Homo sapiens: one gene and its partners. The protein of the gene in region 1 purifies or fractionates together with the protein of each later gene. This does not show direct contact. Each region holds a gene or a part of one and is shown on either strand. Other genes may lie near its edges.

The links.
Region 2: the proteins of POC5 (region 1) and CALML5 purify together in Homo sapiens (co-immunoprecipitation; 3 studies listed by BioGRID and IntAct, with this or other methods). This does not show direct contact.
Region 3: the proteins of POC5 (region 1) and CTSH purify together in Homo sapiens (affinity purification with mass spectrometry; 2 studies listed by BioGRID and IntAct, with this or other methods). This does not show direct contact.

The regions. Positions count from the first base shown.
Region 1 is NC_000005.10:75,715,582-75,719,330, forward strand, and holds the start of POC5 (centrosomal protein POC5), read right to left. Parts: upstream 1,857-3,749; 5' UTR 1,725-1,856; intron 1-1,724. UniProt on the Homo sapiens protein: Essential for the assembly of the distal half of centrioles, required for centriole elongation. Acts as a negative regulator of centriole elongation.
Region 2 is NC_000010.11:5,498,134-5,501,242, forward strand, and holds CALML5 (calmodulin-like protein 5), read right to left. Parts: upstream 1,438-3,109; 5' UTR 1,306-1,437; coding exon 865-1,305; 3' UTR 564-864; downstream 1-563. UniProt on the Homo sapiens protein: Binds calcium. May be involved in terminal differentiation of keratinocytes.
Region 3 is NC_000015.10:78,924,349-78,928,097, forward strand, and holds part of CTSH (pro-cathepsin H isoform a preproprotein), read right to left. Parts: intron 3,434-3,749; coding exon 3,365-3,433; intron 1,093-3,364; coding exon 986-1,092; intron 1-985. UniProt on the Homo sapiens protein: Important for the overall degradation of proteins in lysosomes.

The DNA of each region.
Region 1 (3,749 bases):
CCCTTCCCCTACATGTGGAGATTACAATTGAAGATGGGATTTGAGTGGGGACACAAGACCTAACCATATCAGGTCCCTATACCCGACTCGTATGCAATATTTTTATCATAAATGTGAATGTGTATTTTTCTAGAAAGAAGATCTTTCGCTTTAAATATGCGTTCAGAGGGGACCATAGCCCTAATAGAGTTAAGGACTACGACTGTGAATGAGAAGAGGGTTAAAGCCAGAACCACTAACATCTAAAGGGCAAGAGAAGAACAGTCAGCAAAGAAGAGGAGTCAGCAAAGGAAGTCAGAACATTAGAACTATGGAAGCAATATCACAACTTTGAGAAGAAAATAGAATTAGATGCCAAAGAACCATGAGGATTGGATAGAATTTGGAGATTAGGAGGTTGCTGAGACGTTTGCTTGAACAATTTCACTGGAAAGTAAAACAATTACAGGTCTTAGTCACAGTGGGCTGAAAAATAAATGAGAGATGAGGAAATTGAAATAGAAAAGGAAGATACAGGGAAAAGTGCAAAAATAGAATGGAAACACAGGCTGGAACTAAATTGTGGAAAGGAAAGTTCAACTTTTTCCAGTGAGTATCACTGTGCATACACATGTTAAGTAAACTAAATCTCAGCATGACTGTCTTTAGTTAAGCCAATTAGGGAGGATAAAATAAGTGCATGTATCTGCAGCAAGGAATGGCTGCTTCACTGACTTCAAATCTACCACTGTGATAACTTGGTCCATTTATATTTTTATTCACTTCTTCCTTCAGGATTTGAGACCAGGCAGGTAACAGGGGTGGGGGGGGGGGGGTGCTGATTATTTAAAAATGAGCTAGTAAGTATGGTCAGATCTCAAAAATTGTTTCTTAATATGGACACACTGCAGACACAAAAAAACCCACCGCACTCTTGGAAAATATGCTATCTTCCATCTGCCCTGCTTTATGTCAACAAGGTATGAGTTATTTGAAACTCTAGAACAGTAGCATTTTCCTTACTGTTTCTAGGTTCAGAAACAAAGGAGAAAAATGAAAACTGCTTTAATGGGTGGCGGACGCACATTAGTTCACTACATTTTCAGTAGTCTCTAATCCAAGGTATCAGAAAACAAGATCAAAACTTTTGTGTGCTTCTCTGTTGCCAGAAACATAAAATAACATCTTGGTAATTATCTGGCTGACAGCAAAACAGGGGTCTGGGAATTCAAATGGAACCCCCAAGAGGCAAAGGAAGAGCGAATTAACATGCAAACTAGCAGCAGGGTGATGTCGCCTGTGCCTTTCACCAGGCCTAGCTGCACTCAAGGAAAGGGGCGCGCCAGCCCCTCCCCAAAGCAGGGACTAGAAGCAGAGGAGAAAAGCCATTGCAGTAAGCAAAAGGCCATAAGTTTTCTTCCATCACCTTCCGACCCAGCCTGTTTTAAGAAAAATCTTACTTAAGCACAACAGAGCTTTATACATGGTTATTTTTTCTCAACGTTTTAAGTGACCGGAACCTCTGATGACAGTAATCGCTCAGCATCCCTCACTCCTGCTCACTTCCTCTTCCTGCACGCCTCGGAGGGGAAACTTTGGGACCTTCCGGCACAACAGCTGAATCACTCGCGGTCTGGGGAAGAGCCCAGGGGGAGGAAACACGCGCCAAGGAACTTTAAATCTCCCTCCACTACTTTCGCCAGGGATGCAGGGACGCAGGATCTGCCCGGAGCGCTGCTACCCACCGTCGCCGCTCGCGACCAAATCCCGACTCCTCGCTCTGCGCCTCTTAGCCGCGTCGCAGCTGCAGTGTCAGCAAGTGCAGCCTCAGCAAGCACAACCGCTACCTAGACGGCAACCTGACAGTTTCAAACTGCAGGGAGGAATTAAGGACCGCCCTGGGCATTGGTCCTTTGTTTCAGCAATCTGCCGTTTGATTGGTCCGAGAGCTGGGGGCGGGGATTTGGGCCGCTGCCGGGAGAAGCCGGAATTACTTTGGAGAGCCCCGCCCCCTGGCTCCGCAGGTTGGTAGGGGGCGGGGTCCTAGGGAGCCCCACCCAGCGCCCGTGGGGATTAAATATTGCGCGTGCTCAGTTCTGTTCAGCGGCTGCAGGCTGCTAAGCGGCTCCGGGAGCTGATTTGGATAGAGGCTGTTGAGCAGGGCTGAAGTTGGCTAATGCCGTGTGCTGTTGGCTTTCAACAATTCCGGTAACCTAGATATGAGTCCTAATGCTTTCGTCTGCATAAGAACAATCCGAAATTCTGGGCCAGGTGTGGTGGTTCATGCCAGTAATCCCGGCACTTTGGGAGGCCGAAGTGGGAGGATCGCTTGAGCCCGGGAGTTCGAGACTAGTCTGGGGAACATAGGGAGACCCTTTCTCTATAAAAAATTAAAAACAAAAAAAAAATCTGCATCATCCACAGATCCCCTGCAACAGAATCACTTGGAGGTGCTTTTTTTTTTTTTGAGATGGAGTCTTGCTCTGCCGTCCAGGCTGGTGTGCAGTGGCACTATCTCGGCTCACTGCAACCTCCGCCTCCCAGGTTCAAGGGATTCTCCTGCCTCAGCCTCCCGAGTAGCTGGGATTACAGACGACCGCCACCACGCCTGGCTAATTTTTGTATTTTTAGTAGAGATGGAGTTTCACCATGTTGGCCAGGCTGGTCTCGAACTCCTGACCTCAGGTGTTCCGCCCACCTCGGCCTCCCAAAGTGCTGGGATTACAGGCGTGAGCCACCACGCCCGGCCGAAGGTGTTGATTCCTTCGGTCATGGACACCGTCAGGAAATCTGAATTTTTAACACACACTGCCAGTGATTCTGATGCAGGAGTCTGCAGACCACCCTTTGAGAAATTGCTAGTCTAGGCTGGGCGCGTTGGCTCACGCCTGTAATCCCAACACTTTGGGAGGACGAGGCAGGCGGATCACCTGCGGTCAGGAGTTCGAGACCAGGCTGGCCAACATGGTGAAACCCCATCTCTACTAAAAATACAAAAATTAGCCGGGTGTGGTGGCTTACGCCTGTAGTCCCAGCTACTCCGAAGGCTGAGGCAGGAGAATCCCTTAAACCCAGGAGGCAGAGGTTGCAGTGAGCCAAGATATCGCCACTGCACTCCTGCCTGGGTGATAGTGAGACTCTGTCTCAAAAAACAAAGAAAAAACCAAAATTGGTAGTCTAGTTTTAACTAATCTCAAACGTGTCAGACTTCAAGATAGAGCCTTCTGGTGAAGTATTGGCCTTAGAATCAGATCATAATTATAATCTAGCTTTACCATCTACTCGCTGTCACCTTGGATAATACTACTCACATACTAAGGTGGTAGGAGATTAAAGGAATTAATATATCTAAAACACCGAACACACAAACATATAGTCTTTCAACTTACATTGGCAACAGATAGGCTAGAGGTATGAGGACCCAGATGGCAAAGGTACCTAAGTAGCCCAGACTGGGGTTCTGCAATCTGAAGAACAGATACTGAGATCTGGGTGAGTTTTCAGGCTCCCTTCTGTTACCTCCAGTATAAGGTTTCTTTTTCTGTAGATAGAAATGACATAACCTGGGTCTCACTTACTTTTATGTTGGCAGAACCAGACTTCTACTTACACAAACAAGTAAGAAGAGCACCAGAAGTTTCTTTGGCATAAATTATGTTTGTTCTCCCCCTTTTTTTTCATGCTTATTATAGAGGACAAGTTCCTATTAATAGCTGCAAATTCATACTTGGTTCTAGTATTTGTTTTTTAATTGAATTGCCTTTTGGTGA
Region 2 (3,109 bases), on another chromosome or scaffold:
CAGACACAGACACACAGATAAGACACACACACAAATGGACACACACAGACACATAGACACAGAGACACACTCAGACACACACACAGATACACACATACACATGCAGATGCACACAAGGACACACAGACACACAAACATACAGAGACTTACACACAGATGCACACATACAGAGACACGCATACAGACACACAGACACACACACAGATGCACACACAGACGTACACGTATATTATTTGCAGCCGAAGAGAGGCAGGCTGCGTGCAGAGGCTGGCAGCTGGGCTCCGTCTGTCCATGCGAGGCGCCCGCTCCTGTTTGTGCGGGACACGTGCCCAGGTCCTCACCAGCAGCTCAGGCAGAACCTGGAGCCACAGACACCGCCCAGCACCATCCTCACACATCCTCTGCCCACCTGCCCTCTGCTCCGCGTCAGGGGAGGCAGGAGCTGCCCCTGGGGCCTGCTCCAGGCAGTTCTGCCACCGCAGGTGAGAGGGGTGGGCTGGAAGGAACCCTGGAAGCAGGTGGGGGCCCTCGGAGGCAGCCGCCCCACAAACACCAAGCACACATGGAACTCGGCAGTCCTTTATTTAGATCAATGCGGGGCTGAGGGGCCCTCATTCCACTGCAGGGCAAAGGGGGACCAGGCCCAAGGAGGCCTCCTTCTGCCCAAGGTCTGGAGGCAGAGAGGGGCTCGCAGGCGGCCCGAGGGCGCCGCATCCAGGCCCCGGAGCGCAAAGCCTTCCTCCCAGGGGGAGGCAGTTTCCCATCCACCGACCAGGTTTCCCCGGAGAGTCCCAGCACAAAAGCAGCAGCGGGCGGTGGCCCTGAAGGCTCAGAGCGCAGCCAGGGGGACACAGGCGGGGAGCCTCACTCCTGGGCGAGCATCCTCGCGAACTCCTCGTAGTTCACCCGCCCGTCCTGGTCCACGTCGGCCTCGCGGATCATGGCGTCCAGCTCCTCCTGCGGCAGCGGCTGCCCCAGCCCCGCCATGGCCCGCCTGAGCTCGTCCACGGTGATGTGGCCGTCGCCATCCTGGTCGAAGGCGCGGAAGGCGACCTGCAGGTCCTCCAGGCCGGCCCTGGCCTTCTTCGCCGCCGTCAGGAACTCCTGGAAGCTGATTTCGCCGTCGCCGTCGCTGTCAACCTCGGAGATGAGTTTCCTTAGCTGGGCCTCCGAGAGGTTCTTGCCCGTGGCCTTCAGCGCCGCGCCCAGCTCCTGGGCATTGATGGTGCCGTTTCCATCCGTGTCAACCGCGGAGAAAGCCTTTTTGTACTGGGCCTCCTCCTCAGGAGTCAGCTCACCGGCCATGCCTGCGTCTCCTGCACCTCGCGGAGCCTCCGAGCTGCTGCCCACCGGCCCTCAACCTGCTGCTCTCAGAGCTCGTGGTCCAGAGTGCAGGCAGCCGCAGGGATCCGGGCAGCGTCTGTCCCAGACAGTTCTGCCTTGGCATGGGAACCCCCTCCTTTTCTGCAATCGGAACAAAGGGAGGAGGGAGGCTCCCCACCCTCCAAATGCCCTGGGGTGAGAGCCTCCTCCCAGGGAGGGCCAGATCAGCTGCAGACAGGAAATGCAGGAATGGGAGTTGGGAGAGCTGTCAGGTGCCAGGTGGGAACTGCCATGGGGTCGGGGTATCGGATGGCTAGCCTGCCAACCCCGCCTGGCCTTGATAGCAACCACCTCCCTCCAGGAACATTCTGCCCAAGGGATAGTTTCCCCTGCAGCTGATTCTCGGAGATCCTGACCAAGCCAAGGGGTTCAAGACAGCTTCTGCAACTTCACAAAGACTGAGACTGGAGGGGGAGGTGGCTTGAAGAGGGCTCCCTCAAGGGCACAGCAGGCCCCAGTGTTTGGTGTTTCCGTACCCCTCTCTCCAGTGCTACTGCCTAGCTCTTGCCCTGAGGCTGGGGCTGGTGGAAGGGAAGTGGGTGGTAGTGTTGATTCTGCCAGGGCACAACTGTGGGTATCATGAGATTCCCAGGCCAGGGTCTAGAGACAGAGGATGGGGCTCACTGCCTATAACTTCAAGGAAGCAAGGGACCAGGGCTGCCTTCAGAGCCATAGCTGGTGCTGAGATGGTGTTTATCAAGTGAACATGTGACGTGCAGTTTCAGAGGAGAGGGAAAGACTTTTTGTCTCCCCAGAATACTCCCTTCTAGCTCAGGGATTCCTACAATTCAATTCCATCGCCAAGTCCAAGGTTCCCTGTGCAGACACCCTGGGAGCTCAGTGGCAGGCGTTCCATTCACAGGGCGTCAAACAGTTACAGCTGGAGTTTTGCTGCAGCGAGACACGGGGGACCTCAGTGCCCAGCATACCCCAAAGGTGCAGGCAGAGGTGCAGGAGGATGCAGAACAGGTGGCTGCCATCAAACTTGGCCCTCCTTGTGGTTTTACTAAGCATCAGCCCTAAGCACAGAGACCCATCTGGGAGCCTACTGGGGTCCTCAATCTGATCTGTTCTCTGGAAGGAAACCCCCAGGGCCACTTGCCTTGACCAACTTTTAGAGCAACAGCTAAGCTTTCGGGGGACCATCCCCAAGTCCTTCCACTGATGTGATCTACAGTTGTGAGGGGACATTTGCCTTGGAGTCCCCAAAATGCCTTTCCCAAGCAAGTCCCCTCTGATCTCCATAGATTCCCATTCTTCTCCCCAGCCCCTGCCCGTACACAGGGAACAAACTCCTTTATTCCCCTGGGAAAGTTTATACATTCCACCTCCCTCCTGTTCAGCCCATCAAATAGACCAAGTGCCCTCTCCTTCCCTAAAGTGCAGCCAGACAAACACCTCCCAGCCCCTTGGTGCTGCACACATTCTCCAAGGGAAGCCGGAGGCTGGGGTGCCCAACCACGCACTCCATGACCCACAGCTCAGTCCCCCAGGACCACACAAGGGGCAAACCAGGCAGAGCAGTGAGAGGAGGGAAGATGCCCCAGCCAGCCCTAGTGTGGCAGCTGCTCCCTGAGCTGCATGTGAGGGGCCAGAGGGAGGTGCAAAGGGCTCGGAAGCACCACAGCAGAGGGAGAGGCTGAGGTCTGCAGAGAGGGAGCTCCGTGGACCAGGTACAAAAGGGAAGGTCATGGTCAGCAGGGAGAGGGAAGGAAGGGGGTCACCC
Region 3 (3,749 bases), on another chromosome or scaffold:
TTCAGAAGGCAGACAGCTCCCAGTGGAAGCTGGAACAGTGTGTGGGGGGTTAGGGGGTCCAAGGACAATGGTGACCAGGGCAGAGCCTCAGGGAGGGAGAGGAGAGCACAGACGTGAGTGACATTAGTGAGTGACGTTAACGGGCAGCAACTGATGAAGGGAGGGAAATGAGGCTGCAAACCAGGCAGGCGAAAAGGTGTGGGTGAGAGAAACCCCATAGTAAAGAGGCTAAAGCTTGGTTTTTCTGAAGAAGCCTGGGGTGACTCCTCCAGCACAGGATCCTAGTGTGTGAGGGCAGCTACTCTTCTCCCTATTTTACGTCTTCAAATCTTTAAACATGGGTATTTTTTTTTTTTTCTGAGACAGAGCTTTGCTCTGTCACCAAGGTTGGAGTGCAGTGGCACGATCTTGGCTTAGTGCTACTTCCACCTCCTAGGTTCAAGCCATTCTTGTGTCTCAGCCTCCCGAGTAGCTGGGATTATAGGCATGCACCACCACGCTGGCTTTTTTTTTTTTTTTGTATTTTTAGTAGAGATGGGGTTTCGCCATGTTGGCCAGGCTGGTCTTGAACTCCTGGCCTCAAGTGATCCACCTGCCTCGGCCTCCCAAAGTGCTGGGAGTACAGGCATGAGCCACCACGCCTGGCCTGAACATGGGTTTTTTTTAAACTGGAGGCAACTCTTCTGTTAAGGAGCACAAAGCTCTCAAATTTTGGCCCTAGCTCTCACTAGCCAGGTGGCCTGTGTCTGTCGTATCCCTTCTGACCACCTCTCCTTTGCTGTGAGAAGAGGCCATGGCTCCTGGCCCTTGGGGCTGTGTGAGGATTAACTGAGGGATGTGCAAAACGCCCAGCACCTGGCAGGTGTCATGAAGGGTCTGACACACAGGAGTCTGGGCCACGAGCCCAAGTCCCACGAGTGGGGTGTGAGGAGGCCCACCAAGCCCCTCCCCACTGTCCCTCCTGGCTCCTGGGACCCTGACTCACCTGGAGTAGATGCCGGTTCTATACATCATGAAGTCCTGAGTCACCTCAAAGGCAAAGCTCACAGGGTTGTAGAGGGCCACAGCCTCCACCATCGCTTCCTCGTCATACTGTGGAAACAGGACCGAGACAGAAACACATGGCCTGTCACCTCCCCACTCCTTTCACAGTACAGCCTTTTGCCTCAAGCTAGGGGCTAGAGGCCCAGAGCAGCATGGATGGCCAGAAGCAGCTCCCCTGCGGCCTCTCTCCCTTCCTGTCTCTGGCTGGGTCTGTCTGGCCATCTCTCGTTCCTCTCCCCAACTCTGCTCCTAGGAAACCCTGCACCCTCTGAGATAGGGACCACGGGGTACAGCGTGGACCTACTCATTCAGTCATTCACATCCATTCCCTGAGGTCCTCTCCTGGGCCAGCAGCTCTCACCCCTACACCCATAAACCCAGAGTCTACAAAGCTTTGCTGCTAGAACACAGGGGTTATAAACCATGGACGGGTAGGTCCCAGATGGCGGTGGAAACGAGAAGACCCATCCGAGGGCTGTGTGACTTCTGAGTAGAACCTGTCCCCTCCAAGGGGGAAGGTAGGTGGGGGGAAGTCAGGGTGGCTTCCTGGAGGCTGCAGCTTTGGAACAGAGCTGCAGAGACCAGGTGACAGCAGCAGGTAGAACCCCATGCAGAACCTTAAAAAAACCCCAAGTCCAGGCTGTGCCTCAGACCAACTACAACAGTATCTGCAGGGTGGGTCCCAGGCATTGGCACTTTTTGGAGCTTCTGGGTTGGGGGTGGCTGGGTTCAAGTGCACTAACCAAGAGACCTCTGGGAGCTGAAATGAGGGGGGAAGTTACCTGTGCTGAGGCCAGGGCCCTACTGAAGGAAAGCAAGTGCAGGAGGGACGGGGCGCCCAGCCTCCCTCAGTCCTGCCTCCCTAGAGGGGTGGACAGAGACCCAGCTGTGAAAAGCAAACAGGTGCCTGGCAAGGGAGTGCCCTCCTTCCTGGTATGTGGACAAGGCCTTGTGAGCCCAACAGGTCAGGGCATATCTGAGACATGGAGGGCACAGAGGCCAGCCCAGCACAGGGGCGATGACTTCTGCAGGTGGCACCATTTCCACCCCATGGGCCTGCCCAAGAGGGCTGAATGCTAGTTCTGGCCTGGTCGTCAGGGCCCTGCAGGTGTCACCAATGAGGCTCTCCTGGGGACCATGCAAAGGGATACCTTTGAGGCCCAAATTCACCTGTCCTTGGGATATCATGGCCCAGAGCAGCCAGCTTGAGTGACAGCAGCAACATTCTGAAGAGGGTGACATCCTGAGTACAGGATTTGCGCTGTATGTTGTCAAGGCAATGAGCCCTGGTTCTGGAATGACACATTCTTAGTTCAAATCCAGCATCTATTTCCTAGCTCTGTGGCCTTGGGCACATTACTTAACCACTTGGAGCCCCCGTTTCCTCACCTGTCAAATGAGGTAATAAGGATACTCATCTCCTAGGGCCAGTTCGGGTCTAGAGGGGATAGTGCGTATTGAGGGTTGGTACAGCACCTAGAAGTACTCCATCAAGTTAAGATGTTATTGCTGAGAGCTTGGCACATGCTTCAACTAAATGGCAGCCGCTGTCATTACACAGACATCACGTTTGTGAACTGTACATACATTCGTGGGCGCACACACAACCTAAGCGATATTCCTCCACTCCTCACACACCCTCCCACACTTGCATGCATGCACACTGCAGTCACGAAGGCGTTCATTCACGTTCCAGTTCTCTCTGGGAGAAGCAGGGTAAGACCACACTTCCCTATTCACTTGAGGTCAACTGTGACTGGGCGGCTTGTTTTGGCTTTAGAGCTAGGGCATCATTTACCACCTTCTTTCCCTCTAGTCCTGGCGTGAGGCCAATGACACGGAGCACACACCACCCTCCCTAAGCTGTGCATGGGCGCAGGAGTGCCACACACCCTTTGACTGTTGTCAGCCATGCAGATTGGGCACGGTTGTTATTGCAACAGAACCTGGCTCATCCTGAGTGACACACACTCACCCTCCTCAGTTTCACACACGCTGTGTCAAGCACGTGCTCATACCCTCTTCTGCAGGATGCGGACAATTGCTTGCATTTTACAAGCAAGAAAACAGAACCAAAAGAATGAAGGCATGTGTGGATCTGGAGTTCAGAACCAGAGGGCCTGCCTGCCAGTTTGCGCTCTCCCTCCCATCTCCTGCCTCGCCACCATCACAGCGACTGAGACCCAGGGATAATATGAACTCGTCAAAGGGATGTGCTGCCAGAAGGGCTGCCTTGCTGGGCCCACTGGCTATCCGACAGCATGAGAGAGGCCTCCTCATCAGGACACATTCCCCATCCCAGAGGGGGATCGGCACTCACGATTGTGATGTTGGCTACATCCTTGACAAAGCCGATGGCCTTTCCAGGTTGGAACTTGCAATAACCATCCTGTTGAGGATGCAAAGGGCATGAAATACAGGTTATGGACCCGAAGTCTCAGCCTCCCCACGCAGTTCAATAACATTTACTAAACAAAACAAGATGTGCCAGGGCCTGGGGGATGGGATAATTTCAGAGAGAATTAAAGCATCCTTGTCCTCAAGGAGCTTAGGGTCTGGTAGCAGATGGTCCTGTGCTGGCTTTGGCAGAGGTGGGCACACATGGTGTGTGGTGGGAGCCTGAGGAGGGGCCTCACCCGGCCTGAGGAAACTCACTGAGAAGTGGAGGCCGAGTCAGAGCCTGTGAGGCAGGGGAGTGGGGACAG